4 linked regions of the Homo sapiens genome follow. The protein of the gene in region 2 interacts with the protein of the main gene of each other region in a pairwise test. Each region holds a gene or a part of one and is shown on either strand. Other genes may lie near its edges.

The links.
Region 1: the proteins of RTP2 (region 2) and ERGIC3 interact in binary tests that used the Homo sapiens proteins (3 or more experiments, as listed by UniProt).
Region 3: the proteins of RTP2 (region 2) and LIME1 interact in binary tests that used the Homo sapiens proteins (3 or more experiments, as listed by UniProt).
Region 4: the proteins of RTP2 (region 2) and ELOVL6 interact in binary tests that used the Homo sapiens proteins (3 or more experiments, as listed by UniProt).

The regions. Positions count from the first base shown.
Region 1 is NC_000020.11:35,552,078-35,558,430, reverse strand, and holds the end of ERGIC3 (endoplasmic reticulum-Golgi intermediate compartment protein 3), read right to left. Parts: intron 4,060-6,353; coding exon of another isoform or gene 4,045-4,059; intron 3,388-4,044; coding exon 3,356-3,387; intron 2,399-3,355; coding exon 2,302-2,398; intron 2,225-2,301; coding exon 2,160-2,224; intron 1,459-2,159; coding exon 1,322-1,458; intron 1,238-1,321; coding exon 1,182-1,237; intron 1,007-1,181; coding exon 927-1,006; 3' UTR 797-926; downstream 1-796. UniProt on the Homo sapiens protein: Possible role in transport between endoplasmic reticulum and Golgi. Positively regulates trafficking of the secretory proteins SERPINA1/alpha1-antitrypsin and HP/haptoglobin.
Region 2 is NC_000003.12:187,699,447-187,707,647, forward strand, and holds the start of RTP2 (receptor-transporting protein 2), read right to left. Parts: upstream 3,112-8,201; 5' UTR 2,683-3,111; coding exon 2,519-2,682; intron 1-2,518. UniProt on the Homo sapiens protein: Specifically promotes functional cell surface expression of olfactory receptors, but not of other GPCRs.
Region 3 is NC_000020.11:63,732,167-63,739,603, reverse strand, and holds LIME1 (lck-interacting transmembrane adapter 1), read right to left. Parts: upstream 2,941-7,437; 5' UTR 2,892-2,940; intron 2,072-2,891; 5' UTR 2,055-2,071; coding exon 1,957-2,054; intron 1,784-1,956; coding exon 1,702-1,783; intron 1,632-1,701; coding exon 1,544-1,631; intron 1,422-1,543; coding exon 1,105-1,421; intron 1,007-1,104; coding exon 704-1,006; 3' UTR 501-703; downstream 1-500. Other genes in the region: ZGPAT (zinc finger CCCH-type with G patch domain-containing protein), read right to left, coding at 3,685-3,823, 4,040-4,445, 4,780-4,959, 5,865-6,017, 6,252-6,385.
Region 4 is NC_000004.12:110,195,553-110,203,194, reverse strand, and holds the start of ELOVL6 (very long chain fatty acid elongase 6), read left to right. Parts: upstream 1-4,579; 5' UTR 4,580-4,859; coding exon 4,860-4,948; intron 4,949-7,642. UniProt on the Homo sapiens protein: Catalyzes the first and rate-limiting reaction of the four reactions that constitute the long-chain fatty acids elongation cycle.

The sequences.
Region 1 (6,353 bases), on a different chromosome or scaffold from region 2:
ATCAGAGCTAAAAGTTCTGCTGTCACTACCTGACTTCGCTTCCTTTCCCCTCTCTCTCGCTTTTCCCCTGCCACAGTCTTGCATCAACATTCGAGACATGATCTGATAAACTGACTGGCTGTTTAGGTACCCCTGGTTCCCTAGGCTGTGGACTGGTGAGGTTGCTGGGCCCTGGTTCTCCACATGGATCCAGAGTTCTAATGGGAAACCCTGATTAGGCTCCAAGCCAGGGGTCTGGTGCTGGCCCTGCTCCAGAATGGCCACTGACTGCTACTTTCGCACCTCAGTGTTCAGTTTTGCTTCCATCTAGACTGCAGAGGACCTGGAGGGATTCCTCTCTGCAGTGAGAGCCAGCGTGGGGTTTGGCACAGAGTGGGATCAGTGAGTGTGACAGGATCAGGTGTATTGAGCCCAGGGTGGCGGAGAGCGGCCCCAGCTTTACCCATCAATGAAGAAGTGGCAAGCCCCAATATGCACTCAGGGCCCTGAATTAGTGGCCTGGGGTTGATCACTCATGAGCCTGGGGGCCATGGTGGCTCCAGGAAGCTCACGCTGAAAAGGTCCATCTGAGCCCTGGGGCTGAACCCGAGAGGCCTGAGGACCACAGTGGAGGAGGGACCCAGGACAGGGCTGTGGGCTGGACATGAACCTGGTTTGAATAAACCCCGGTTAACTAGGGGATGCCCATGTGGGGCTCCCGAGGGCTCTGGGCCCCGATCTGTCAGTCACAATTGCCTTCAATGAGTGGCCAGGATGAGGCTCTGGCCATGGCAAGGATCACACGGAGACCAGTGAGTACTATCACAATCAATCAATAGATTTATCAACCTGGGGCTGGGGCTGACCGAGGAGGTGGAGGGTGGCAGAGGCTGGGGGACAACCACAGGCCAGGGAGAAAGAGGAGACAGAGGAAGCACCGAGGGTGACTACGTTGTCTTCCCTAGATCAATTTTCTTCTGGATGGCTCGTGCTGAGTGGTAGATGAGCGAATCGATGAGTCCAGCCACTGGGAGAGAGACAAGGGCTGGCACTGGCCCAGTGGGGGCCTTGGCTTTTGACGCTGAGAGCCTTGTCACTTAACTGGCCAGGCCAGCATCTGCCCCTTCACCCCCAACCAAACCTGGGGCACCCAGGCTTTACCCTCCCCACCCCACAGCTCACAGACGCCCTGGGCCTCTTACCTGTGAACATGCCCCCAATGATGGCGCACACACCTGTCAGGAAGTGGGTGAAGGACCTGGTAGAAGGAGAGGGTGGGCTCAGCAGGCATCCTCCTCCCTCAGGCCCAGGCCCCCAGAGGCCGCTTTGCCCCCATCCTCACCTGTGCTTCTCCGTCAGCTTCACCATCATGGGCGAGAGCTCATAGAGGACGAAGACTCCGGGAAGGCCTTGGTCGCCCAACAGCCCATTGGCAACCTTCTCATGTCTGGTCACAGAGAACTGATTTGTCCTCAGTACCTGGGGTGGGAGGGGAGCCTGGGCCAGGGCTAGGGCTAGGACCTGGCTCCAGCCACCATCAGCCCCACCCCTGCTCCTTCCCCTTTCCTGTTGAGCCTTGGCCGTGTAAGGAGAGAACACAGCACCGTGCTAGTGGCCTGCACTGCAAGGCCTGGCCCGCCAGACCCCCTCTCCTAGTCTTGGCCTCAGCCTTCCCCTCCAGGTGCCAAGTCTTTACAGTTTACCTATCCTGGCAGCATTTGGTGGGTGTTCTCACGGGGGTCCAGGCTGAGAAGCAGCTCTCCAAAGACGCACCAAGGCTGACCTGACTTCCTCTGCCCTCAGCCCCTCGCATCCTGCCACTCTGCTGAGATGCTGCTCCACAGGCCAGGGCAGCCTTGGGAGCGGGTACACAGAGACTTGCCTTGCCTAACCCCCAGCCCAGGCAGACCACAGAGAACAGTGAGGCAGGCAGACGGTGGGCACCGGAGGAACGGATAGAAGCGGTGAGGGCAGCAGAAAGAGCAGGCGCTTTAAATCTAACAGCCCCAGGCCTGCACTCTGCCTGGGAGGGCAAATCCCCCACCCTCTCTGTGCCTCAGTCTTTTATTCGCCATGTGAGGACGAGGCAGCTTTCACTCCCCAGGCTGACGGAACGAAATGCAGGAACTCCAGTGCTTGGCACCGCGCAGGAGACTCTGGTAGGGAGCTCCCTGACTCACCTCTCCGTCCACCTTCATGTACACAGTGGGCACCACCTTCACAAAGTACTGGAACATCATGGAGGCTGAGGGGAAAACAAAGCACTGGGTATGGGTGCCCGGCCGGCCTTCTGCGGCTGGGGGCTGCCTCCCGGGCTGGTACCTTGGGGCGCAGTGACATTGGTGTGGTCCAGGGGGTTCACAATGCCTGGATAGTCCTCCCCAAATGACAGGTGCTGGATGTAGTGGGTCATGTTGATCTGTAAACAACACCATCCAGAGCTCATCCAAAGCTCTGATGACAGTAGCAGACAGGGACACCTGGGTCCGTCTGCGGAGATGTGGGAGGAAGGGGAGGCTATGGTCCTAAGGGGACAACCTCCCCGAGATAAGAATCCCCCATTCCCTGCCTAGAAACTCCTCCTTCCACAGCCTGCAAACTCCTGGGGTTCCAGATTTTTCTTTTTTTTTTTTTTTTTTGAGACAAGGTCTCACTCTGTTGCCCAGGCTGGAGAGCAGTGGCATGATCTTGGCTCACTGCAGCCTCGCCTTATTCAAGCGATTCTCTTGCCTCAGCCTCCTGAGTAGCTGGGATTACAAGCATGAGCCACCATGCCTGGCCAGGTTCCAGATTTCTTAAAATACCAGCTTCACTTGTACGTTAGGCACACAGAGTAGCAGGTGCTGGCTTTGCCTGGAGGCCTAGGCTGGAGGCTGTGAACCCCCAGATACACTCCCTTCCTGCTCCCTTGTGTATCAGCCTCAGACACTAGAAGGATCTTTCCTAAAATGCAAATCTGATTATGTCGTGATCCTGCTTAAAGAAGGCCAACAGCTTTCCACTGTTCTCATGAGAAAGATGTGATTCCTCAGCGTGGCCTCTGAGTCCGGTGTGGTCTGGTCCCTGCCGACTTCTCCAGCCTCACCCATCCACACCTGCCCCGCAGTTCCTTAGAAGGGCCATGCTCCCGCCTGACCTTGCGCTGAGGCTCTGTCTGTCTAGGATGCTCTTATCCAACCCCAATCTTGCCCCTAGCCTGCTCAGAGTTCAGTTCAAAAGTCACTCTCGCTTAACCCTCAGGCTGGATCCCCATTCAGAACGTGGTGTATTTTTCCATATGCACTACCCCATCCCAGGATGTTCCTACAAGGAAATGAAGGCAGCAACCAAGCCTCCCACCCCCACCTGCCCTCCATGGTTTCCATCTGGTACGTACGTTGTCAAGGCCAAAGCTCTGCAAGTCATGGACTAGGAGAGAAGGGAGAAGGCAAGGGAGAAGGCGTCATTAGTAGGAGCAGCACTGGCCTCCTCCTTCCTCCCCCTGGACTGCAAACCACCTGTCTTCTCTGCCCCTCATTCCTTCTCCAGCCTGGCACCTCCTGGTCCTGCTTAAGGACAGCCAGAAAGGGCAAGCCTTGGGCCTGTGTGAGAGTTCACGCCCTCCTCAGGAGTCTTTAGAACAGACCCTGGTTCCTCCCTGACGTCCACAGGGAACTCTATGCCTTGACTACCACCATGGCCCTGCCTGCATCTCCGGAAACAAAACCCACCGACTATGGGCTCTCACTAACTAGAGCTGATGGCAAATCACTGAACCTCAAAGTGAGGTGGGATCTGAGAATGCCATCCACACTTTCCCTGCCTCCACCCTCAAAGCTCCCCAGAAGAAATCCCATGGGGACCCTGTACCAACTGTTCCAGAACAATTTATTCCTGCCCTCTAGCCTCAATCCCTCCTGCTGCAAGGAACCATACTTCAAAGATACATCCCAGACCTTTTACAGTCACCCAGCAGCCAGGTCAGAGGAGACCCAATCACAGCCCCATCCAACCTCCCCGCCATTCTAGTAGGGCAGGCTGCCCCAGAAGTAGGGGTTTGGCCTCCATGGGGGCAGGGCCACTTACTCTCCACAGCATGTACTGCAGCATGGGGGAGGGAGGAGAGAGAAGAAAGATTCAGAGCTTCACAATGAGAACTATGAGAGCAAGATATGTTGCAGGAGGGAAGACTGGAACATTCAGCCTCAGCAACACAGTCTGGCCCCAGCTAACAAGCCTCCTTCTGGGCCCCTCCTCGAGAGTGAACTAATCTGGCCAGAGAGGAGCAAAATAGTGGCCTAGAAGGACAAGAGGCCTAGAGCTCAAAGAGCCAAGTTCCTGACTGTGTGGCCTTGGGCAAATCAGTTGCCCTTTCTGGGCCTCAGTGTTCTCCTTTGCAAAGGGCTGTCCTAAGGATCACGTGGGATCTAAGATGGAAAAATACTTGTAAACTTTACACTGTAAGAGATTATTACCCACCCCAGCCCCAATCAACAAGGATGTTAGAAACTCACTCCCAGGCCTCAATTCAGCCAGATCTCTGGCCTTGGGCAACTGTACCTTTGCATTTATACATCCTTCCAAATACAGAGCACCCCCGGCCCGGGGATCCACAAGTCTAACAGTCCCAGGCCAAGAGGCTGCCACTCTGGCTGTGTGTCTACTGAGTGCCCGCCAGACCTTGTGCCAACAGCTTGACACTGATCATCTTCCTGCCCTCCCAGCAAGACCCTTTTCTCCCAGCTTCCTCCAGAGTGAAGAGGGGGTCCCAGAGCTCTGCAGGGTCCTCCAGCCCCCACACTGGCCCCTCCCCAACACAGCCCCACCCCCACAGATTGCCCTGAAGACCAGCAGAGCTACCCTCCAGGGGGCCCTTTCTTCCTGTTCACTTCAACCATTTTGAGAGGCCATCTTCATACCCTGGGCTCTGTCACTGTGCAGCTCTGTCCATCCTTTACTGTGACACCAACTCCCACCTTCCCCAACCCTGCCTTCAACCCCTGGGTTCCTCTTCACTTTCTTGCTTCAGCCTGGCTCTTCCTTTCAGGCACTAACTCCCTGGCATCCCCTCAACGTGCGACTATCTTCTCTCCATACACAACCTCTTCCCTGGCCTAAAGAGAAGTCTTTCTTGCTCCTTACTGCCACTTCCAGATCACTTTCCCTTTATCTGCCTTAAAAATGCACAATGGCTCACATCTGTAATCCCAACATTTTGGGGGGCCAAGCGGGAGGATCACTTGAGCCCAGGAGCCTGGGCAACATGGCAAGACCCTGTCTCTGCAAAAAAAAAAAAAAAAATTAGCCAGGCATGGTGGCATGTGCCTGTGGTCTCAGCTCCTTGAGAGGCTGAGGTGGGAGGATCTCGAGTCCAGGAGGTCAAGGCTGCAGTGAGCCAAGATTGTGCCATGGCACTCCAGCCTCAAAAAAAAAAAAAAAAAAAAAAAAAAAATCCCCAGCTTTGAAGCTCAGGGCAAAGCAGCCCTGCTTGTTTCAGTCACCTAGATATCGATATGGAACCTCCAGAACAGTTTTCCCATGCCATTTTTCAACAGCTTGGGCAACTGCCTGTCACTCTCTCCTGTACTACCTCTGTCACACGTTCTAGTGATTTCCATATCCACGTAGATGATCCTTCCAGTACCCGGGCCTCCCAGTTCCTGGACATCCTTTCCTCCCTGATCTTGTGCTCTGCCTACCCAAGCCACTTGCTCTGTTGGCCATTCCCTAAACTTTGTCATTAACAAAGCCCCTTCTGTGACTTCAATTTCAAGCAACTCATGCTCCACCAGCTTTCTAATTTCCTCCAGTTCCCCAATTCCAATAACTTGTTGACACTACACTCAGGACTTGTAGTCCCTTTTTCCTCCTGCCCCCTCACTGGCTTCTCCACATCCTGTCTTTCCTCCTTTCCTAGCTCATATGCTGTGGTCCAGAATCAAGATGAGTTCTTTACATATTTGACTCCCTCACCTTTGCAGGCACCTGGCAACACCAAACCCCATGCAATTGCAATGTTCTGTTGACTGAGTCCATTCCCACACAGACAACCATGCTGACCGCTCTCTTTGCATTCACAGCCGCGGACTCCAGGGAGGCCCTAGGGCTGCATCAATCCTACTCAATCTCCCCAGTCCACGCACTCTTCCACCCCCAAGTGACCAGTCACATCTTTTCTTCTTTCAAATCTCCAACACCTCCTTCCCTCTCTCCTCATTCTCAACTGAGGACCTTCCTTCCTACAACACGGAGAAGATGGGAAGACTCAGAAGAGACTCTCCATGTACTTCTGCCACACCAGCTACCACCCTACCTGTACCTACAGAGCCTGCCCTTCCTCCTGGTGCTAAGTTTGGACTTTCCACATATGTAAGGCACTAGATTCTGTCTTCTTT
Region 2 (8,201 bases):
CATCTAACTCATGCATCTTGCTTACTTTGGGGAGAAGAGACGCCTCTAACTGTGCCAAGCACAGACCCTGGCACACTGTAGGTCCTCAGTAAACCACTGAGAATGATGGGATGGACAGACCGGTAGATGGGTAGGATCAACTGGCTTTTAGGAGGAACTACCAAGTTTAGTTACTACATCTTCACAAAGAACACTCCCCAGTCTCTTGACAAGTCTTCTCTAGATCCCACTCTAGCCCTGCAGTGGGGACTGGAAAAGAGGGTATTCATTCCCATTGCCACTCCACACACACACACACACACACACACACACACACACACACACACACACACACACATATATTTTCTCTCTCTCTCTTACATGCACAGAGGCCACTTGGCGTAACCTGGGCTTTCTAGAGTCCCAGTCTCAGGAAGTGTTGTGGGTGGTAGCCTGGGGCTCATCTAGGCAAGCCCCACTCACTCCGCCCCCACCACTGCCTGCACACTTTCAGTGATGCAGCACTCCTGACCTCCAGGGCAGTTCTTTCCTTCCCTGAGATGAGCCTCTTCCAGGCCTCTGTTATAGAGGCTTCACAGGCAGTCAGATGTCCACTGGGCTGTCCCTGTCCTCATCACTGGCCCTTTCTGGATCCATTGTATGATGGCCTTGAAGGACTTCTGATTAGGAACTCAATTCAATCCAACAGACACCATTCAACACCTCCCATATGCCAAGCACCACTCAACCCAGGCTATGGGATAGAGGTGAGGCCAAGCCTGGCTCTGACCCCTGAAAGCCTGATCACATGAGCATAGAACAGTACCCAGAATGGCCCAAGGTGGGGTTGGCAGGTCAGAGGAACCTAGCTGGTACTGAACCAGGAGAGGTTCCCCGCCCCCAGTGCTGGGTGAGAGCTGCAGGGCATCTGCCTGTTTAGAGACAGAGTGAGCCTGTGCACAAATAAGCTCATGGGCAGCAGTTCTTCAGCTCTTCCTGAGGCCAGCTGGGAGCCACAAGTCACCAGCCAGGAGTAAGAGGAGCTGACCTCTGAAGCAAGAGGAGACATGAGCTTGCTGAGCTCAGCCCCGAAACTCTGGATCCTGGGCACTCAAGTTTCCAGGCATCTGCACCTCTTCCACCAGGCAGTTCAAATGCTTTATGTTTTCAGTCTCCTTCTACACCTTTTTACATCAAACCAACCCAGAATTGCTTCACCTACATCAAGTTAGGCCTCACATCTTAAATTCAAAAATATCAGATCTGGGGGCAGGCGAGCTTAAGAAGCATCTAGTCAGCCCTTTATTTCACTGAGAAGAGACAGAAGCCCAGATAGTAAGAGAGGCATCCATGTACACACAGCTAGTTAGAGGCAGAGCCAGTGCTCAGCACATAACAGGTACCCAATAGATGCTTCTTGAGTTGATGGAACTGACATGAATCAGCCAACCTCTGGTTTTCTGTCTTTTTTTCACAAGGCAGGTTTACTCCAATAATTCCAGGTCTTGGGACAAGAGTACAAACGTAAGCTCCCTACCCACATCTTGCCTCCTCTGTTCCCACCCTCAGCACCATTCTGCACCATGAGAAGCTTCACACACATACACGTGAACAACCCAGCCTTTGTGTCCATGTTCTGGCTACATCTCCAGAGCACAGCCACTTACTGGCCTCTCTTGAATCCAAGGACACAGGAAAAAGGCCTGCACAGACACTACAGATGGACTTGAGGTAGTCTGGGGAGGAATTTCTGTAGTCCCAGTCCCCAATCATGATCTAAAAGGAGGAAAGGCATGTGGACTTTAGACGGCCTCGTCCCCTTGGCCTCAAGGACTCTTTGCCCTGTGGTAGATGTGCAGCTCCTATAAAGAGTGGGACCCTGGGCTCTAAGTTCCTAAAGAAAGTTTTGCTCAAAGCTAAATCTTTTTATCACAGGTGCATAGATAATAGAGCTAGAGTGGATTGGATCTATTATCTAAGACCAACCCCCTCATTTTGTAAATATAAAAACTGAGAGCCAGAAAGGGAAACAGACTTGCCAAGTTTACAAGGCTACTTAGCTATATAGAGCCAGTTCGTAGCACACAGCAGGTGGTCAATAAATGTTTATGTATTCAGATCAAATTGGATTAATTCACTAAACATATCTAGGAACAGAGCATAGCTGTACCCCCTGCATTCCCCCAACTCCTAGATTAAAACTTTCCCCAATGGACCTCATGGCCTCCTTCCTTCAGTTCCAACTCACTCTAAATGTCAGAGATTGCAGGGACATAGATGATATTACAGCTCTTCATTTAATGTGGACAACTAAGACCCAAAGATGGAACATAACTTTCTCAGGGTCACCCAGGGAGTTAGTGGTATTGCTAGGATTAAAAGCAAGAACTCTCTGACCCAGCCGGCTGTCTTTGTCTTTTTCCCCATCTGAGCTGACACCAGAATAAGCCCGCGACTGGGCTCTGTCTCTCCTTGGAAAGTACCCCACAGCTGTGACCCAGGGGCTGTCTGCAAGGTCCCTCCCCACTGAACCTCTCACCTGCCTGAGGCGTGCTGCTCCAGGTACTGCTTCCAGCCAGGGGCCAGCTCACTGGGCTTGAGGTTGGGGTCTATGATGAGCTCCCAGCTGTCCGCTGGCTTTGCCACCTCCATCTTCTCATAGAAGACTTTCTTCCACTCACAAGTGGTCAAGCTGGTACACATGGTCCTGCTGGCAGAGGTGGCAGTTCGAGCTCAGCCCTGGTGAGAACACAGAAAGAGCACGGATAGGTACGGGACAATTCAGTGTCTACGGTCAGAATCCTCATCGGCAGGACTGGGAGTAAACAGGACCCAGCTCCCTCCTCTGTTACCCTGGAACCTGTTACCATGGTAGCCAGGCAGGGCACCAAGAGTGAGGGCTGGGGAGAAGGGAAGCCCCAAGGGGGAGTTTCAGGGCCCTGAGTTAGGCTTCAGAGGCAGCGCTGGGTAGGCCTGAGAGGAGCAAGCACAGTGGGAGGCCCAACCTCAGACCACACTCATCTGGATTTCCAGAGGTCTCCAGGAGGCAAGGACTATTTGGTGGCCCTGCTTCACCCAACTGCTCTTCTAGCATTCTCCACATCATGTGCTATGGTAAGTACGACACCCTAGGAAGTCAAGGAGAAATGAGGGACAGGGAAAGGCAGAGCCTGCTGCTTCCACACCCCCTGATATGCTGTGACCATCACTTACCATGTGCCTAGCACAAACCGCTTGACCTGTGTGCTGGCCAAAGCAGATCAGATCAGGAAACTGAAGTTTATGCAACCCCTAAGTGGCTCATCCAAGATTCAGATCTAGGCCTTCTGAAACCGAGCTCATTTGTTTATTTATTTTAGTACTATTGTGCTCCTAACAGGGAATTGAGTGAGAAGTAACATCTCTTTGCCCAGGGCAATCTTAGACCAGTTGGTGAGCTAGAATGTAATTTCATATGCCATGCAAAGCACAGTAATAACATTTCAGATTCATAGCGTCATAGAACTGTTAGAGCCCATATTCAGTTCCTGGTCCCAAGCCAGGCTAAGGTGGCTGCTGGGGTAATGAGTTTGTTCTGTGCTGCAGGCTCCTGCTGCCTCCATTACTGCTGAGCTGGAGCAAGAGAGCATCCGTAGCTCTGTGATGCCCAATTCAAATTCTTTAGAAACCAGAGGGGAATCTGACTTCAAATTTGGTAATCCAAGTGAAGACACGGTTACCTGAAGGGAGGCTGCCTTGAGCATGGAAAAGACCAGGCATATGGCTGCTTACCCTAGCTTTGGTCCAACTTCCAACTGTAATCATCTTACGATTCTTTAACCCGGAAGTCTGGATCCCTAGACACGCAGAGTTCCAACAGTAAAGAGCTTCAAGAAGTGAAACAGGTTGCTAAGAACCGGAAGCTCTTGGTGTTGAGTTGCCAAGTGGTTTTCAGGAAGTGTGAAGTCAGGGACAATGTCACTGGATTCTCTCTTGAAATGAAAAGTGTTACTCTAGCGGCTTTGTGCTAAAGACCTCAGAAAGGACACAATTGTCTTTGAACCATTGACTGACAGCTCTAGAAGAGCTCTTTTATTTTTAAAAATCTGGTTTATTTCTTGAACTCTTCATTTCTTAACCAAAATTTATTGACATTGAATTAAAACAACTGAGGCCTGGAAATGGAAAATTACTGGCCCAGGCTCTCAGGACTGGGTAGCTCAAACCTCACTGGGGATTCCCTTAGAAGCCAGTTACCAGACCAGGTGAGACAGAGGGATCCATGAATGGCCAGGAACTGAACGAAGCTGAGATGAGCTTATGGCCTGGCCTAGACCCTCGTGCCAGGAAAGAACCTCTGAGAAATAGTATACCCTTGTTCCCAGAACAAATGGCAATAAAGGAAAAACAGAAAGAGGATGAGAATTGTCAGGGTTTACCTGTATTTTCTTTTTTCCTCAAATAATGCAATCCCCTTAGGCCTAGTATCAGGTTTAATTTAGCATAGCAGCTTCTAAGCAGAGACCAATAGAATTCATCTTTCTGTGTAACAGCACTGTTTTCACTTTTCATACAATCAGTGAGCACAATTACTACTTCAATTTTCCGCGAATGACACTATCTTATTCCAGAACCCACGATTTAAGAGCTCACAAATGTATATTGTGTACAGCTGTGGCCACATCACACTCTGGCAGCTTCATTATACATATTTTGTCTAGGCAATACTTTTTCAAATAAAGAAATTGTTATTTCTTTATAAAATAAAATACTGAGCACCTGTATTCTGCAAACAAATCAGCAAGGGGGAGGGGATGGATAAAAGAATCACTTTTCCCCTTCAATTTGGAATGCAAGTTAATGAAGAGCTTTGTAAAATATTTATTATTCAATTTTACTTATTAGAGTAATGTAAGAAATGCCAGTGTGGAGCTTAAAATGACAAAGTAATGAAGAGTTGAAAAGGTGTGTACATCAAAATCACCTGGAGAGTTCTGAAAACTGTATACACCTCTGCTTCAGAGATTTCAATACATGTTCTTGAGGAGACAAATTTGCTCTCCACCTACTCCAGTCCTGGGAAGAATCCCTTCTATTGCCAGCCATTGTTACTGATGGGATATGTTGTCCCACAGGCTACTGGAGGCCAAAAATGAAAAACAAAAAAAGAAGATTGAGTAAAATGAGCTAGTGGTTTATAATATTTCTTTACCAGGAAATAGATCCAGGACAAATGCAAGGTGTGTCCTATCTTCTCCTGTGTCTCCGCAATTCAAAGAACCGTAGACGATGCTATAGGGCGAATCCAAGATCCCCTGGGGAGTATTTTCAAGAGATATTAGGAAGGCCTCTCCATCCCCAGGATGTAGCACTTAGCGACAGCATGGTCCAAGCTCCCACTCTTTGGGTGGGAGCTGACCTCTGAATCTCAGGGGAGGCCACACAGAGCAGTCCATGGCTCTCTAATAGTGGCACATAGTGGAATCTTCCCAGGAAGATTTTACGCTGCCCTTTTATTAATTGGCAGCAACCAGAGCAACTGCAGGCAAGTGACATTCTGTTTCTGCTGGTGTCCAAGGGCCCAAATTCTGTGCACCATGCTTCCCAGCACCCCAAAGGCTCTGGAATCTGTATTAAGAGTGACTATATCTACTTATCCTTTTTTCCGGGTCTTATTATCCTAGATAGAGATTTGGTGACGAATCTATTATGGGATGTAAATACATAAAAAGACAGATAGAAATAGGGTGTGCTCCATGCAAGGGAGAAAAAAAAAAGATAGGGGTTGAGTTAGGAAGGAAGAATATAGAGGGTCTGGGGACACTTTCAGCAGGTACAGCCTATGCTGCTTCTGTCCAAGAGGCTGAGGGCCTTCATCAGAGTTCCTTAGCTATACTCAGAGAACCTGCTAGTTTCTGTTGAGCTGAGGCTCAACACACACAAAAATAGCCATGACTCATCTCTGGGACACTCCTAGCCATCAAGGCAGGGTGAAAAGGGAGCATGGGATAGATTGTGCTGGCTTTTAAAGCATCCATTCTAAAAATGACAAGGCTGGGGTCAATATCCTGGGCAGACTTTTAAAAATATATATCTTTCCTTTTAAACACACATTTACCCAGTAGAACATTTGTAGTTCCAGGGCTTTCCAGGAGACACCAATTCACATAAGGAAAGGACCCATTAAAGCTGAGTCCATTCCTGAGGCAAGTCTCTCACGATAAATAGAACGAATTTTACCTTGAGTATCTATCTTTAGGAAACAGGTCACCTTCCAAAGACTGATGGGGATTCCTTGATGAGCAGTCAGAAAGGCTGTTTGGCCCCAACACTTAGCTCAGTTAACTTCCTTGGAGACTTTACATTCCCAGAATTGACTATGTACTTCAATTTACATGGGAGTGAGAAGGGAAAGGACTAATACACTCATTAGTATTGTATTTACCCTTAAGGCTGGATACTGACTTTACCCTTTTTCTTATCCAAAAATCAAGATAAAATTGTTCAAGTGCATAAAATTGGACAAACATTACATAGATATTGCATAAACAGGCAGTTAAAAGCCCCCAGTAAAGATTTAAACAGACCACTTAGCTCTGACATTGGAACCAGAAGATACACAGTCAATAGGAGTCACAGGCCCAAAATGATCAGGCTTTGCTTAGAGTTAAGTTAAATATGCTAGAAACACTTCAATTTATTTCCCCAGTTGTCAAACAATTGGAAAGAGCATAACTACACACTATAAAAATGCTTTCTTACTCCCAAGGATAAGGCAGGTAGGTTTTATAGTAAAACAAAGCATATGAGACGCAGATCTTACATGAGATGTAAAACAAATATGTTAAACGAAGATGTTTTACATGAGATGTAAAACAAAGCATATGAGATGCAGATCTTTATATTTCTCAGTAAATTTGAGCTTTCTTGATATATGCTTATAGACACTATAGTTAAAAAGCTACATTTCTTGCAAAGTCCCAAGGTAAATATAAGTAAAGCTTGGGAAGAGAGAATTCTACAAGAAAACCCACTGACCAGAATAAAAAGAATTTTAAAACAGAAAGATCCCTTGATTAGTGAAACAAGAAAATGGCCACAACTACAAGCCAGAACAATTATAGTTAAATTTGGATATAGAGTGGGAGCACATGAAGAACCAATGCATGCCTCACTTCATCTCACGCAGAGTGAATATTTCTTTTCTTTTTTTTTCTTGGGACAGTCTCACTACGTCAAGCAAGTTGGAGTGCAATGGCGTGATCTCGGCTCACTGCAGCCTCTGCCTCCTGAGTTCAAGCGATTCTCCTGCCTCAGCCTCCTGAGTAGCTGGGATCACAGACGTGCACCAGCACACCTGGCTGATTTTTGTATTTTTAGTAGAGATGGGGTTTCACCATGTTGGCCAGGCTGGTCTCGAACTCCTGACGTCGTGATCCACCCACGTCGGCCTCCCCAAGTGCTGGGATTACAGGCATGAGCCACTGTGCCTGGCCAGAGTGAACATTTCTTTAAACATGACCCACCCCAGTAGCAATGAGCACACCTACCACACACATCTGGGTTCCTAATACCATTCTCCAGTTAAAATAACAACAACAAACTAGGTCTTCTTGGAAAAATTATATGAAGGCTCATTCATTCCTATGTCTGGAGGTTGATGCTGCCTGTGAGATGGGACCACAGCTAGGTCTATGGGCCAAAACATCTACACATGGCCTTTCTATGGAGCCTGGGCTTCCTCACAGGATGCTGGCTGAGTTCCAAGGGCTGGTGTCACAAGAGAATCAGGCAGAAGCTGTGCTTCCTTTTATGAGCTACCCTCAAAAGTCACAAGGCAACACTTTCACCATTGCCCAGATTCAAGGTAAAGGAGCATAGACCCCACATTTGGATAGGAGGAAAGTCAAAGCTATGTTGTAAGAAGATGCAAGTCGGGAGATACCAATGTGATCGTCTTTGGAAAACATGCATTGTCACAGCAGGTAGGGAAGTCAATAAGGCTTCCACAGAAGGAGTGGTATGTGAATAAACCCTTACAGGATGACCAATTGGCAGTTAAATAAAAAAAATGTTAAAGGGGTGCTTTTCCCTAAGGAGGGGAAAGCATGGGCAAAGACTTAGAAAATGAAATGACATAGAATCATTCTTGAGACTCCATATCATTTAGGACATCTGGATCACACAGAAGAGTGATGGAAGTTGAGGCCTGAAAGATACATGGGACCTGGATTATGGAGTTT
Region 3 (7,437 bases), on a different chromosome or scaffold from region 2:
GGTCGCTCCCGCGCTGGCCTAGGGAGGGAGGCCCGGCCCGGCACAGCTCCGAGGCCTCCGCCCACCTCGCGCGCCCGCGCGCCCCGCCGGGGAGGGCCCGTTCCCCACGGGCGCGCTCGCAGAGCTGCCAGAGCCGGGGAAGGGGCCGCGATTGCTTGGCGGGCTTCCCGGCAGCAGGTTACTCTTTAACGCTCGACTGCCCACCTCCACCACCCCTTATGTAACACCAGGCTGGGTGGCGGAGCCCTCCCGTGGAGTCCAGGGTCCAAGTCCCACCCGGGGGCGGCCACCCTGCCGGCTGCGCTGCCCCCTAGGAGTGGCTGGGACCCCGTGCCCGCACTGACCGAGAGTCTGGCCGGCAGGAGCACCGCCTCGGCTAGGCCCGGGCGCCCCGGGGGCAGCCAGTCCCCCAAGGCCAGAGGGGACAGCTCCAAGCCTTCCAGAGAAGCCCCCCGCCCCAACCCGCCCAGCTTTCAAGAAGAGCAGGCTGCGAGGCTGGCCGCTTTCATCCTGCGCTGGCGCTTTATTTAGACGCGGGCCTTCTCTGGAGCCCGGGGAGGCCGCGGCTGTCAGAGCGGCCAGGACCTCACGGACCTCACGGGCTGGCAGCCCGGGGACCTGGGACTGGCGCTGTCAGCTGTGAGGCGGGGCGGGGCGGGGGACGGGCCTCACTCTGGAGGAAGGAGCACAGGTCCTTGAGTGTTCAGGGCAGGGAGGCAGGGAGGGGTCTCCAGCCCCTCCCTAGGCTGGGGCAGCTGGAAGCAGGGGGCGTCCCAGCCCCGCACGTGCTGCTCCTGCCAGCAGGGTCCCCCAGCTCCCGGATGCTCTCATACACGTTTTCCAGGGGGCCGCTGTCCACATCCAGGGCCCTGAGCGGGAGGGTCTGGTAGGCCAGGTCACCCGCCAGGGCCAGAATCGCTCCCTGGCCCTTGGGGTCCAGCGGGTCTGTGGTGGGTCCTGGGTCCCTCCTTTTAGGCTTGCAGACCCTGGAGTACAGGACGTCCACCTGGAGACAGGAAGCCAACCCGAGGAGGGGTCAGCACCATCCAACCTGCTGAGGATCTGCCGGCCCCACCCACAGCGCCCTACCCTGGCCCACGTTACCTGAGCGGCCGGGGTCACCTCAGTCTTCCCCTGCTGTGGCTCTTGGGGACTGCGATGGGTCCCTTTGCGCTTCTGGACGCGGGCATACTCGGCCACCACAGGGCTGGCCGCCAGGCTGACCCCGGGAAGGGCCGCCAGCCCCACGTTGGAATAGGTGGCCTCGAGGCCAGCGCACCCTGCGGTGGCTGCAGCTGCCGGCAGAGCCCGGGGCAGCTCCTGGTGTGGGAAGGCAGAGGGGGCTGCCTGCGGTCCGGTGATGTCCCTGGACACCTCCAGCCAGTGTGGGCGCAGGAGATCCATGCTGGCAGGCCGCAGGGCTGGGGGTGGGGTCAGGGCAGAGTTCACTCCGGGCAGGGGGCAGGAGCGGGTCTGGCCCAGGGGTTGGCACGCGCTGCACAGTAAGCCCCGCCCGGCCGCCCCCGCCCCGCCCTCTGCTCACCCCTGCTGCTGCGCGGGCCCCGGTGCAGCTCGTGCAGTCTGGTGTCCGACTTGCTGAGGGAGCAGAGGTGGGTCCGCCTCAGTAGGGACTGGGGGCGAGGAAGGCTGGTCGGTGCCCTGCGGACCCCACCCTGGTCCCCGGGACAGCCTGGCACTCACCGCTTCCGCCGCCGTCGCACTGCCCTGCAGCCTCGCCCGCTGCCTCCGCGCCCTCTTCCTGGGGGCTACAGCGTCCTCGGGCCTTGGGGGTAGAGGTGGGGGGCGGGGGGCGGGGTCGTCAGCCTCGGGTCCAAGGCCCGGTGCAGGCGCGCGTGCCGAGCTGGGTGCGCGGACCTGCCTCCAGCCCCTTCCCGCGCTGGGCTGTGAATGGCAGCCGCAGCGAGGCCCCAGACAGAACGCGGCTGAGGGACCTACCTGCGGCAGGCTGTGCACAGCGCCCACAGCGAGAGGAGCAGGGCGCAGCACCCTAGAACCCAGAGGGCAGGAGGGGCCCAGGACACTGGCAGCCCCATCCTGTGAAGCCGAGGCCCTGGGGACAGAAGAAAGGGGCGCTGGGGGCTGGCCAAGGGGACCTGGCGCCACCTGGCAGCCCCAAATCTGCACCTCCCGCGGCTGCGGGGCTCCTGCGTCTCCCGTTCCAGCTCTGACTCAGCACAGGAAGCCCCAAGGCCTGGCAGTCCCTCCCTCCCAGAGGTGCCCACCTTCTGGCGGGGGCTCCCGGTGAGGTGAACTAGGGCTGCTCTGCCTGGCCCCTCCGTGTCCCTGCGGGTGACCACGGTAACACCCAGCACGGCCGTGAGGAGGGGCAAGACAGCTGTGGCCACCATAGCCCAGATAGTAACCAGCATCGGGGGAGCCCCTGGGTGTGCGCCACAGGCCACAGACTCCACCTGCAGCCACCCTCTGCCCAGACATGGTCTCCTGTGTCAGGTAGTGCCCCCAAGCCGCTCGCTGCGGAGCCCAGAACTGGGAAGAGCTGGAGGCTGGTCAGCAGGAGGGACCCTGCACCCGGAGGAGCTGGAGGCTGGGTCAGCAGGCAGCAGCAGCTGCTGGGGGTGCTGATGCCCCCACCCCACTTCTCTCTGGCTCTTCTTGTCTGCCAGTGTCTCTGCCAGAGAGGATCTGTCCCCTTCTTGGGGATCTTAGCAGAACTTCTCGGGGTGGGGGATGCCTTACAAACAGCACAGTCCAGCAGCAGAGACAGAAGCTGGGGGGTGAGGGGTGGTCTCTGGAGTTTGGGGCCAGTCTGCTCAGACCCAGGGAGTGGGCTTCAGCCTGGCTGACTGACCCAGCTGCAGCCACATCCCAAGGCCTCCCAGACCCCAGCTGCCCCCCAGGAGGGCACTTACCAAGCCCACGGCCAGGGGTCCTCAGCTCTGTCTGGGGCAGGCCAGGAAGGTCTTTGTGCAGCCCTCGGCTGAGCTCCCCACCTCATCACTTCCTGCTCCTGTCGCCAAGCGCCTCCCCTGAGCCTCCCACCCTGGGCAGCAGCCACCACCGCAGCCTCACCCACCTGCTGCGCCCCGCCCGAAGCCTAGATGAAACGTGTGCGCCTCTAGCCCGCACTGTTCTGACAGCCTAACTCACAACCCCTCCACACACGAAGACGTGAGCAGAGCTGGCACAGAACCCCCAAACCCACAGGGCCAGGTCCGCCTGCCTCACCAAGAGTGCCCCACGTGGTGGGCCACAGTCCTCTCCCGCCCGTCTCGCCCGCTGGAGCAGCACTGAGCTCCACCCATCTGTGGGTGTCAGGCAGCCTGGCGGGCACCCTGGCCTCCGATCTGCCTTGGTCAGAGAAGGGTAAGAAGGGAGAATGCCGGCCTCCTAGGCCCCTCCAGCCCAGCCCGTCTCTCACCACAGCCCTGCACAGACCCTTCTCTCCCCAGAGACCCTGCAGCCAGCTGATCTCCACTGAATGACACTGTGATGAAATCACTTTAATGTCCTTGCCAAGGAAATGCCCAAGACACTGGCAGGTGGGCAAGTAAGTGTCCAGATGGGACCCCGCAGCTCTGTCTCCACTCAGCAGTGTCTGCACGCCCCAGGCCAGCAGGCCGGCCCCTCCTCGGGCAACACTGGTCTTCCTGAGGGCAGCCCGTGCTGGGGTCCCACGCTTCGTCCATAGTGCTTGTGGGGTCTCTAGAACTCAGTCATCTTCTTGTGGGTGTCTGCCTTCCTCTGCTCCTGCTGCAGGCCGGCTTCCTGAGCCCGGAGCTGCCCCAGCTGGCGCTGGGCTCCTGCCAGCTTCTCCTGCAGCTGGGCTGACGCCACGCTATGCCTGCGGAGGGGCTCACTAGTCAGCGTGGGGTCCTGGGCCATGCCACCAACCCCAGTCTGCCGTACCCACTGCCTGTGTGCCCGCTGCCCGTCCTCCAACATGCAGACCCCTCCTGGACTCAGCCCGCTATGCTTGGGTCAGGTGACCTCCAGCATGTATCCCGGGGGCAGGGCCACCCTGGGTCGCCCTTTGCCCTGAGCTGGGCCCCACACGTACCGGCCAGCGTTGCGGGCGAGAGCCTCCTGGATGCTCCTGATGTCCCGCTGGGTTCGCTCGATCTTCTCCTCAGTCTGGAAGAGCCGCAGGCTCAGGGCCCGCTTGGCACTCTTGCTGGCATGGTACATGTCCTTGCTCCTCCTCCCCGCTGGGGCCGCCCCGGCTTCTAGGGCCCCAGGAGCCTGACCTTGCAGCTTTTCATTGAGGAAGTCAAACACATTCCGAGGAGCTGGGCGGCCCCCAGGCCTGGCCCCTCTTCCCCGGCACCTGGGGGGCTTGTTGGTGCCAGCCTTGCCAACCCTGGTCTGCTTCTGCAGGGTCTCCACACACTGGTCCAGCGACTTCCCTCGAGGCAACACCACAGCATGGATGGGCTCCACCCGGCCTTCCGCGTGTCGGCCCAAACCTGCGGAGGCACGGGGATGGCAGTGCTGTGGCTGCGGGACCCCGGGAATCTGAGGAGCACGGGGATGGCAGTGCTGTGGCCACGGGACCCCGGGAATCTGAGGAGCACGGAGATGGCAGTGCTGTGGCCGTAGGACCCTGGGAATCTGAGGAGCACGGGGATGGCAGTGCTGTGGCCGCGGGACCCCGGGAATCTGAGGAGCACGGGGATGGCAGTGCTGTGGCTGCGGGACCCTGGGAACCCGATGGCTGCGGGACCCCGGGAACCTGATGGCTGCTGGACCTGGGCTATGCTGCAGCAGCCTGCCCACTTCTCCAGGGCAGCTTGTACTCACCCTTGCCAAACTCATAGCCCATCTTGGTGAGGAGTCTGGAGCCTATACCTCGCGTGTGCACCTCCCAGCCAGCAAAGGCAGAGCTGCAGGTCCCAGAGTCCACAGCATCTGACCCCACCACTGCAAGAGACGGACAGAGGGCAGAGGACTGTGCAGAGTCCACGGCGTCCGACCCCACCACTGCAAGAGATGGACAGAGGGCAGTGGCCCAGCCAGGCCAGAGGATTGTGCATGGTGACCCGGGCTTTGACCAATGAGCTCAGATCCTGGGCAGAGCCACGACACCCCACCTCTTGGGCTCCGTGCTCTCGTCACCGAGGCTGCTGTGGGCATGTGACACCAGGCAGAGTGCATGGCAGTCCCCACGGCCTGCTGCACCGTGGCCCCTCCTCCGCAGCCCTCTCCTGCCCCTGCCCTTCTCCACCTTCGCGAGGCTGTGAGCGCCTCACCTGCCCTCACAGAGTCCTTGGTTCAGTCCTCCTTCACCAGGGACATGGGGCTTCAGAAACCACCATCACTGATCCCTGGGTACACCTCCAACATGCAGACCCCTCCTGGACTCAGCCCGCCATGCTTGGGTCAGGTGACCTCCCACATATATACACACACACGCACACGCATACACACACCCCTCTGGAGAGCTGGACACTGCCCACCAGTTCCCATTCCCGAAACTTCCATGCTGGCTGTCTGGACACAACCTCTGTCTGCCAGGATCCCAGGCACCCAGGTCCCAAGTCTGAGAAGCCATGCAGAGGAGCTGCCCCTCCTGCACTCCAGGCCCCATCAGTTGGTCATTTTCTGTGACTTCCTCGGCAACTCCAGGCCCCTCCTCTCCCATGGCCACAGCCACGACCATGGCCTCCCATCAATGAGACTGTAGCTGTTGCACCCACACTCCTTGAAGATAAAGGCCGCCACGGATCTACCCCTACCCACACGGCCTCCTCAGGCACAGGTGGCACCCTCGCCGCAGTCACACACTCTCCAATAGTTTGGTTAGATGGTTGGTGCCCTCACCGGCCAGGAGCCTCTCAGGGTGACCCCACCTTCCTGGCTCCTGGGCTCCGCAGCTGCTGCCATACCTCTGGCATAGCTGGAGTCACCCGTACCGTCGCTGTCTGAGTCGGACTCTGTGGCCTCTGTGCGCAGTGGGGGCAGGATGCCGTCCCCCTCCACCACGGCCTCCCTCAGCAGCAGCGAGTCAAACTTGACTGTGTAGTAGCCGTTGTCCACATCTGGGGGCAGAGACAAGCTGCAGGTCAGAATCCTTGACAGCAGGTGCCACTGAAGGGAACCACCCTGGACATGAGGAGCAAGGCAGGGCAGAGGCTGAGGGTAGGTGTGCTCATTTCGGGCCCAGAGCCAGAGTCCCGACACTCAACCCAAAGGAAGCAGGGAGCAGCCACACAGTGACAACACACGTGGGGCCTGGGAGGGTGTTCCCGGGAGGCCCCCACGGCCAGCCTCACCGGTGATGCGTGCTGCGTGCCAGAGGCCATCCTGGTGCTTGGCCAGACACGCAGAGCCGGCCTGCAGGGAGCTCAGGTCTGGGTCCTGGAAGGGGCGCAGCTCATCCAGAGAGACCACCTGCCCATGGGAGAACCTGCAGACAGAGCCGTAAGGGGCAGGGCTCAGACATGGGCCACCAGGGGCAAACCAACCCAGGAGCACTGACCCATCCGCCTGGGCACTGTCCTGAGGGAGACAGACACACACGCGTGCGTATACATACACACTCTCACACACTCACGCACACACATACACACGCACACATACACACACACATGCACACACTCACGCACACATACACACATGCACATATACACACGCACATACAGATACACATGCACACATACACTCACACATACACATATATACACACTTGTGCATATACATGCAGGCATATACACACACATGCATATACACACGTACACATACACGCATACGCACACGCGCATATACACATGTACACACACATGCACTCACACAGGCACACACAAGTACACATACACACGCATAAACATGCACTCACATGCATACACACACGCATATACATACGTACACAGGCATACACACACATATACAGACATACACATATACACATACACAAGTACACATGTATACACATGCATACACACATGCACACAGGCATATACACATGTACACACACATTAACACATGTACTCACACGTCATACACATACACAGAGACCCTGACACGCGTATAAACATGCACTCACACATGAACTCATGCAAATACAGATGCAGTCATACATGGATATACGCACACGCCATCTCACCCACACGCGCGCACACGTGCCCTCACCCACACACATACGCCCTCACCCACACACATGCGCACACAAGCACCCTTACCTACACACATGCGCACACATCTCTCACCCACACACACGCACACACAGGCCCTCACCCACACACATGCGCGCACACACACCCTGACACATGCACACACACACCTCACCCACACACGTGCACACACATGCCCCCTCACCCACACACATGCACACACACACGCCCTCACCCACACACATGCGACCTCTCATCCACACACACGTGCACGCACACATGCACCCGCACCCAAACATGCACACACAGATGCACCCGCACCCACACATGCACACACATATGCAGTCAC
Region 4 (7,642 bases), on a different chromosome or scaffold from region 2:
GCATTTTCCTAGATGAAGAATGCTGCTTTTATTTTAACCAGTCAGGCTTAGTTCAGGATGCAGTAAAAAACAAACAAACAAACAAACAAAATCTCAAAGATCGAGCCCAAAAGATCAGGGAAAGCAGCTCCTCTACGTGGCCCTCTTGATCTCTCAGCACCTGGGCCGCCTGGCTACCCTCTCTCCTTGGACCTGCTGTAATCCTTTTTCTCCTCCTAATCTTAGGTCCTTGCCTAATACTCCTCTTCACCCAGTTTTTGCAGAATCGTATCCATGCCTTTGCCCATGGAACCATACAGGTCATGATGTTACTCCAGGAGTATCAACACTTTCAAAACCAAAGCCAACCTCCACTTTCCAGCCTTTCCCCTAGCCCCTGCCCACTCTCAGCCTGAAGCAGTCTGATGAAATCAATGCCCCTTCTCTATCATCTGTTAAAAGGCTGGAATGTTAGGGTCCACCCAACTGGACTGTTTCCCGCTCCCATAGACCTAAGCCCCAAAGCCCCACCTGTAACTGTCGGACCCGAGGCCAGCTGTTCCAGGATGCGGTCAAGAAGTCTACCTTACACAACAGAACTGGCAAGAAAAACAACTCCAGGAAGCGGTCAGACACCTGGCACAAAGGATCCCCTACTCCCTGGCCTTTTCTTTTTCCTTCACCCTGACCCAGTTATATGCCCTATAAAACCTTGCTATATAGCCTGTAAGCGGGGCTGCCTCCTCTGCTTTTGTCAAGAGGTAGCCCACCAGGACTGACAATGAATCACATTGACTTGAGTCTATTGACCTCATTCCTTTCTTGGCTGTCCTTCCAATTATCCCTTAAACTATTATTTTCAGTGTTTTATTATAAACAGTGCTGAATATATTTGTGGGGGTTTTCTTTGTTGGTGTTGTCATTTTTTGAGACAAGGTCTCACTCTGTCATTCGGGCTGGAGTGCAGTGGCGCAATCATGGCTCACTCCAGCCTTGACCTCCCCAGGCTCAGGTGATCTTCCCACTTCAGCCTGCTGAGTAGCTGGGAATATAGACACATGCCACCATGCTCAGCTAATGTTTTTGTATTTTTTTTTTTTGTAGACACAGGTTTTCACCATCTTGCCCAGGCTGGGCTTGAACTCCTGGGCTCCAGCAATCAGCCCACCTCGCCCTCCCAAAGTGCTGGGATTACAAGCATAATGCCAGCCCAATGCTGAATATCTTAGACATATATCCGGAATGTTTCGGTGAGTATATCCATAGCAGTGAATTTACTAGGAATTATCATGCTATTATTCGGTTTAACATTCTTTTATCCTCCTCCACTCCACTGCAGTTGAGAATAAAATCTAAACACCTTATCTTGATTTACCTGTGGCCAAGATCTGACCCCTGCCTGTCTCTTCAACCTGTTTCTTTCAATTACTCCTTACTGATGGCCTGAAGCCACACCAGCCTTTTGTCCTCAATCCCGCAAATTTATTCTTTTCCTAGGAGCCTTTGTACTTGCTCATTCTTCTTTGTAACACTTCTGCAAGAGGTGGCTGGCTCTTTGCCAGCGGGGTCTCAACTCAAAGTCCTTCTCCCTGAGGCCTTCCAGGTTTAAATGAGCACTCCCAGGCCTTCATGTCATGCTGTTAAATTGTAATCCTAGCATTTCATTCTCTAAGAAATTATTTTGTCTTCCCTTCTGGAATGTAAGCTCCAAGTGCGCAAGAGCCCTGTTTGTCTCATTTGTGAGTCCCAAGAGCTCAGATGAGTATGTACTCAAAATATATCTGGTAGGCCAAGTGCGATGGCTCACGCCTATAATCCTAGCACTTTGGGAGACTGAGGCAGGCAGATCACCTGATGTCAGGGGTTCAAGACCGTCCTGGCCAACATGGTGAAACCCTGTCTGTACTAAAAATACAAAAATTAGCTGGGCATGGTGGCACATTCCTGTAATCCCAGCTACTTGGAAGGCTGAGACAGGAGACTCACTTGATCCCAGGAGGCAAAGGTTGCAGTGAGCCGAGATCGCGCCACTGCACTCCAGCCTGGGCAACAGAGGGAGACATCATCTCAAAAAAAAAAATAATTCTGGTGAATTAATGGTGTGGATTTAAAATTGTGATATATGCTGGGTGCCTATAGTCCTAGCGTGGAAAACATAACAAGTCCCCATCTCTAAAAAATAAATGAAATTATCATATAGGCTGCCAAATTGCTTTCCATACAGAGTCACCAGTTTTCAAAGTCACTGACAGTGCTTGTTTGTTTTTGAGATAAGGTCTCACTCTGTCACCCAAGCCGGACTGCAGTGGTGTGATCATGGCTCACTGCAGCCTTGACCTCCCAGGCTCAAGCTATCCTCCCATCTCAGCCTCCAGAGTAACTGGGATTACAGGCATGTACCACCACACCTGGCTAATTTTTAATTTTTTGTAGAGATGGAGCCTCACTATGTTGCCCAGTCTGGTCTCTAGCAATTGTCTTGCCTCAGCCACCCAAAGTGGATTTTCTGTCTTGATTCCTTTCTCACTTCTTACCTTAATTTATTTGATGAATCATTCACTTTACAAATATTTATTGATTATTCACAGGCTCAGGCACCGTGCTAAAATGGTTCTTTCTTATCTGGCCACACCTATCTTCCAGCCCAATCTTGCCAAGAGTTTTGGCCTGGGCCTTACTTCAAAGTGACGTAGACTTGTACTGTAGAGGTCTCTAGAAAGACAACCCTTGGCTGGGCATGGTGGCTCATGCCTGTAATCCCAGAACTTTGGGAGGCTGAGACAGGTGGATCACAGCCAGCCTGGCCAACATGGTGAAACCCCATCTCTACTAAAAACACAAAAATTAGGCGGGCGTGGTGGTGCTTGCCTATAATCCCAGCTACTGGGGAGGCTGAGGCAAGAGAACCATTTGAACCTGGGAGGCGGAGGTTGCAGTGAGCCGAGTTTGCACCACTGCACTCCAGCCTGGGCAACAGGGCGAGACTCCTCCATCTCAAAAAAAAAAAGAAAAAGAAAAAAGAAAGACAACCCTTAATGGGGGAGATGAGGACAGTCCCTACACAGAATCTTTGGCAGTGTCAATGTATACATTAATTTGCTAATCAACTAGGCTAGCCCTTTAATCTATATATTGTACTGGATTTTAAAAATTATTTCTTTACTTTCTCATTAGACCTTCCTCTTTTTTTTTTTTGTTTGTTTGTTTGGAGACAGAGTCTCCCTCTGTCGCCCAGGCTGGAGTGCAGTGGCAGAATTTTGGCTCACTGCAACCTCTACCTCACGGGTTCAAGCGATTCTCCTGCCTCAGCCTCCTGAGTAGCTGAGGTTACAGGTGCCCGCCACCACGCCTGCCTGATTTTTATATTTTTAGTAGAGACGGAGTTTCACCATGTTGGCCAGGCTGTTTTGAACTCCTGACCTCAGGTGATCCGCCCACCTCGGCCTCCCAAAGTGCTGGGATTACTTCTGTGAGCCACCACCGCGGCCGGTCCCTTCCTCCTTTAAAAATTTTTCTCCCAGTTCCCACTTTTTGTGGGTTAGAGGCATCTAAATTGAATGAAAGTACCCTTTTTGGACTACTGGGGAGGTGGGGGGATGTTCTCAGAAGGGGAATTTTCTTTCTGGTCCTAATATCCACCTAATTTTTAAAAGCAGGGCTCCTTATTATTTTGTAAAGTTTACAATTACATCATTAGATACTTCCATGTCTCATATTTCATTTTTCCAAACTCTTGGGGGAAATGAGTGGAGGGATGGATGGAATAGAAAATAGTTTTTCCTCTTGGAGGCTGAGGGCCCAGTAGGGGTCAACAGTACATTCAGCCCTCTCCTCACATATTCTGTTCTACCTACAAGTACAGCAAGTAAAGCCAAATTTCTCATGCATGCAAATAAAGTTTTTGCATTTGGCCAGTCGGTCCAGTTCTCCTGTCAGCTTCCTTCCCCACTCTGCCTCTGTTCATTAATCCCCCCCTTCCCGGTACCTAAACCCTCCACCTAACCCAGCCCTTTCTTCCACTTCCGGCTACTAGCCTCTCTCGCCTATCCACTATCCTCACACTCAGCATCCCCTGTCTGTACGAGATTAAGGAGCTCTGCCGTCCGCAGGGCCTGGGTTAGCGTGAATCTAAGCCAGAGCTCCCGGGTGGGGGTGGGGGTAGGGGTGGGGGTGGTCCCAGAGGTAGGGCGAGGAGGTGGGAAGCGTATTCCCTTCACTGGTGATCTCAACGTAGATTTGCCCGGAGTTCTCTTGCAAGAGAGCTGGCAGGTTTTACTATTTCCCAATCGTTTACTCGCCAAGCTCTCGGGTCCACGCGCCGCGGGGATGCGCCCTGCAAGCTGAAACTTCATTCAAAGCAAGGCGGCCCACGAGGTTGGGCTTAGGGGATCTGGATGACCTCCAGGCCACTTCCTTTCTCTCTGCGCCCTTCCCCCACTCTTCCAACCACCTTCGCTGTAAACAAAACTGTCCCCCCCGGGCGGAGAGAGGTCGCGCTCTTTCGCACACTCCCTCGCCAAGGGTTAATTTCTCAAATCGCACGAGGGGGAGGAGATTTCCCTGTAGACGAGTAAAAAGGGTGATGGACAAACGTGCGGGCACTAAGACCGCAAGGCATTCATTTCCTCCTACGGTGGATGCGGACGCCGGGAGGAGGAGAGCCCCAGAGAGAGGAGCTGGGAGCGGAGGCGCAGGCAATGCTCAGCCCTGGATGTAGCTGAGAGGCTGGGAGAAGAGACGACCGCTGGAGACCGAGCGGCGTGGGGAAGACCTAGGGGGGTGGGTGGGGGAAGCAGACAGGAGAACACTCGAAATCAAGCGCTTTACAGATTATTTTATTTTGTATAGAGAACACGTAGCGACTCCGAAGATCAGCCCCAATGAACATGTCAGTGTTGACTTTACAAGAATATGAATTCGAAAAGCAGTTCAACGAGAATGAAGCCATCCAATGGATGCAGGAAAACTGGTACGTGATGCTTTCGCCTGATACTGTTCCCGGGAGCCCTGCGCGTCTTCCCGGAGTGCCTTAATGTCGGTATTCCCTGCCTGGGCGTGAATGGAGCGATGAATCGCGGGCAGCCAGCTGATCGCTGAGTTCTCGGGTCTCCCGGGTGCAGGAGACGCTGGGGGGGGGGGGGTACATGAAGCGCGAGGTCTGTGGGTGCCCCTGTGTGAACCGCGGCTACATAGGCATCTTTTATATAGATTATATAACACAGAACATATGTGTGTGCACAGGGTGATGTCTGCGCGACAGGGAAGGCGGGAGAGATGCCACAGTCCAGATCGCCTACCTGTGCTCCCCTCCCCTCCCCCGGTTTTCATCTAGATTTGGGTTTTCTCGCTTGGCCTCTCCCGCAACCGGAGTGTGAAAGGCAGTGGAGGGAGGACCTTGTCTCCTGTTGCCTTTAACCCTCTCCCGCCCGCCGCCCTTGGCCCTGGTCCTCGCTGTCTCTCCATCCCTCGTGTCCTTCCTTTCTCCTTGCAGCGCTCCTACTTCACCGTCCTCCTCTGTCTGCCGCTCCTCAGGCGGATGCCCCCTTTTTAGTACCCCTTTCCCCACGCGGTTCCCTTTCCGGTTTCATAGAGAGACCGGGTGGGAGGGAGGAGGGGACAATGAAAACAGTAATAAATGAATGAACCCGAGCGAGTGGAGCCACGCCATTATTAAGTTTCTGTTTTACGGAAACGCCTTTTGGACACACTTCTAATTCTGTGCGTAGCTGCTGATTGGAGTTCAGGCACACAGATTAAAAGCCCCTCCGTCTGCAGAGTCCTTAGGGGCTCTTCCCTAGGAAACTAATAATCAGGGAAAACACCTTTCTTGTTTACTGTAGTCCCCCCGCCAGACCTTTTGAAAATCCCTGTGTGGGAGGCGATCCAGTGTCACCTTGCAATATTTAACAGAGGAGGGTGTGCTCATCTCGCTTCTTGTAGACAGGGTTGTGGCAGAGGCATTCCTCTCCTCCCCTTAACTTCGGGTCTGGCGATCTGTAAAGTTCAAGCCCAACGCACCCCGGAGCTAGGCAAGGGGCCGGCAGCCCGGGGGATGGCTTGACCGGGGAGGGTCGGGCCGCAGGGTCTCCCGGGAGCCGGGGGATTCCGCCCGCCGCGTGCGCGAGCGCGCGTGCCCCGCGCCCTCCCGCCTGCCCTCTTCAACTGGAAACCAGAAACGCCGGCGCGCCTGTGGCCTGGGCGGGTTGGTGCAGTAGGAGCTGGTGCCACGGGGCCGCAGCTGCGAAAAGGGGGTTTCAACTTCCTGTCCTCCAGCCCCCTGGAGTCGCCGGCCAGTGTCGGGAGGCCCGGCCGCCGCTTCCTTCTCCTCCCGCCCGGCCGGAGCGCGCCCACTCCCAGCTTCCCGCGGGCTGGTCCGGGCCCCAATGGCCATTTGCGGCGGCTGCCGGGCGGAGCCCGCCTCCTGGGCCGCGCGCACCGGCGGGGCAGGCCTGCTTGGGGTGAGCTGCGGCGTGGCTGGTGGCGGCGGTGGGCTAGGGGCCCAAGGGCCGCGTCTGGCCCGAGCCGGAGCCTAAGAGGCGGGGACGCGGGCCGCTCGGAAGGACTGGAAGTGCAGCAGCCACACAGGCACAGGGCTGGTGCCCTCCCGGGCCGCTGAGGCCAGGGGGTGCAGGGGTGGGTCCGGAAGGAGGTTGGACACTAAGGGTCGAGACCGCAGATAGACCTCGGCGTTTCGGGGCAGCCGAGGCCCCTCGAGCCCCACCGCCCGGGGTCCTTCTCTGGATGCACTTCCTCCTCCCGCTTAGGGGGTGGTGCTGGAGGCGGGGAGGGGGCGGTGGCCGGAGCCGGCGGGCGCCGGAACCGCGCTGCTGGCTAGCCCCGGGCCCGGGTCTTCTCCGCACATGTTTGTCATATCCTCCAGCCGGCCTGTTCGGGCCCACAGTCCTCCCGCATTAGCCTGTGTGGTCAGTGTGGTCAGCATTTGCTTCTGTGCCGAATCTCTGACTTGCTGCGTCCTGGTTTAACCTGCTCTTCCGGAGTCCGCTTTCCCTCGCTTTGCTGGCTGACCCCATTCACTGTACGCCCGCCATTCCTAGCCCACTGCAGTCGATACTGCCTCTTATTTACTTGTTGCTTTTTCTCTGAGGCCACTTCCTAGGCCTGCTTCAGGTACCATTTCCCGCCTCTTCTCTCCATTCACTCAGTACTGAGCCAGACAGGTCTCAGCCCTCGTGGGACTGAAAATGACAAAAATGTGCCAACGTATCTACTCCTGTTAGGTTCTGACCACTGTTTCCTCCTAGTTCTTTATCTGTACCTTTCTTCTGGCAATATCCTTTACTGTTATATACATGGTTATTAACTTACAGACCATCAGCTCTTCAGGTTACGGTTCTTGTCATCCCACTCTTGATTCTGCAAAGCACCTAGCAGAGTGCTTTGCATAAGGCACATTCTTGAGAAAATGTCCAGTGAGTTGAAATGGTGATTGGTGCCCATTTTATTGCCAGCACTACTCGTTAATACCCGAAGGTTAACAGGCTAGAACTTGCATACCGTGGCAGAGTCACATCTTGGGATTTTTCCCTTCCTGGCTTCTGCTCTCTGTTGATGTTATGTTCTTAGATTGCTTATTGCAGTCAAAGAACCCTGCTGGCTGTTACCCCTCCCTTGCAACTCTTCCTGACCCTAATTGTCTTACTTT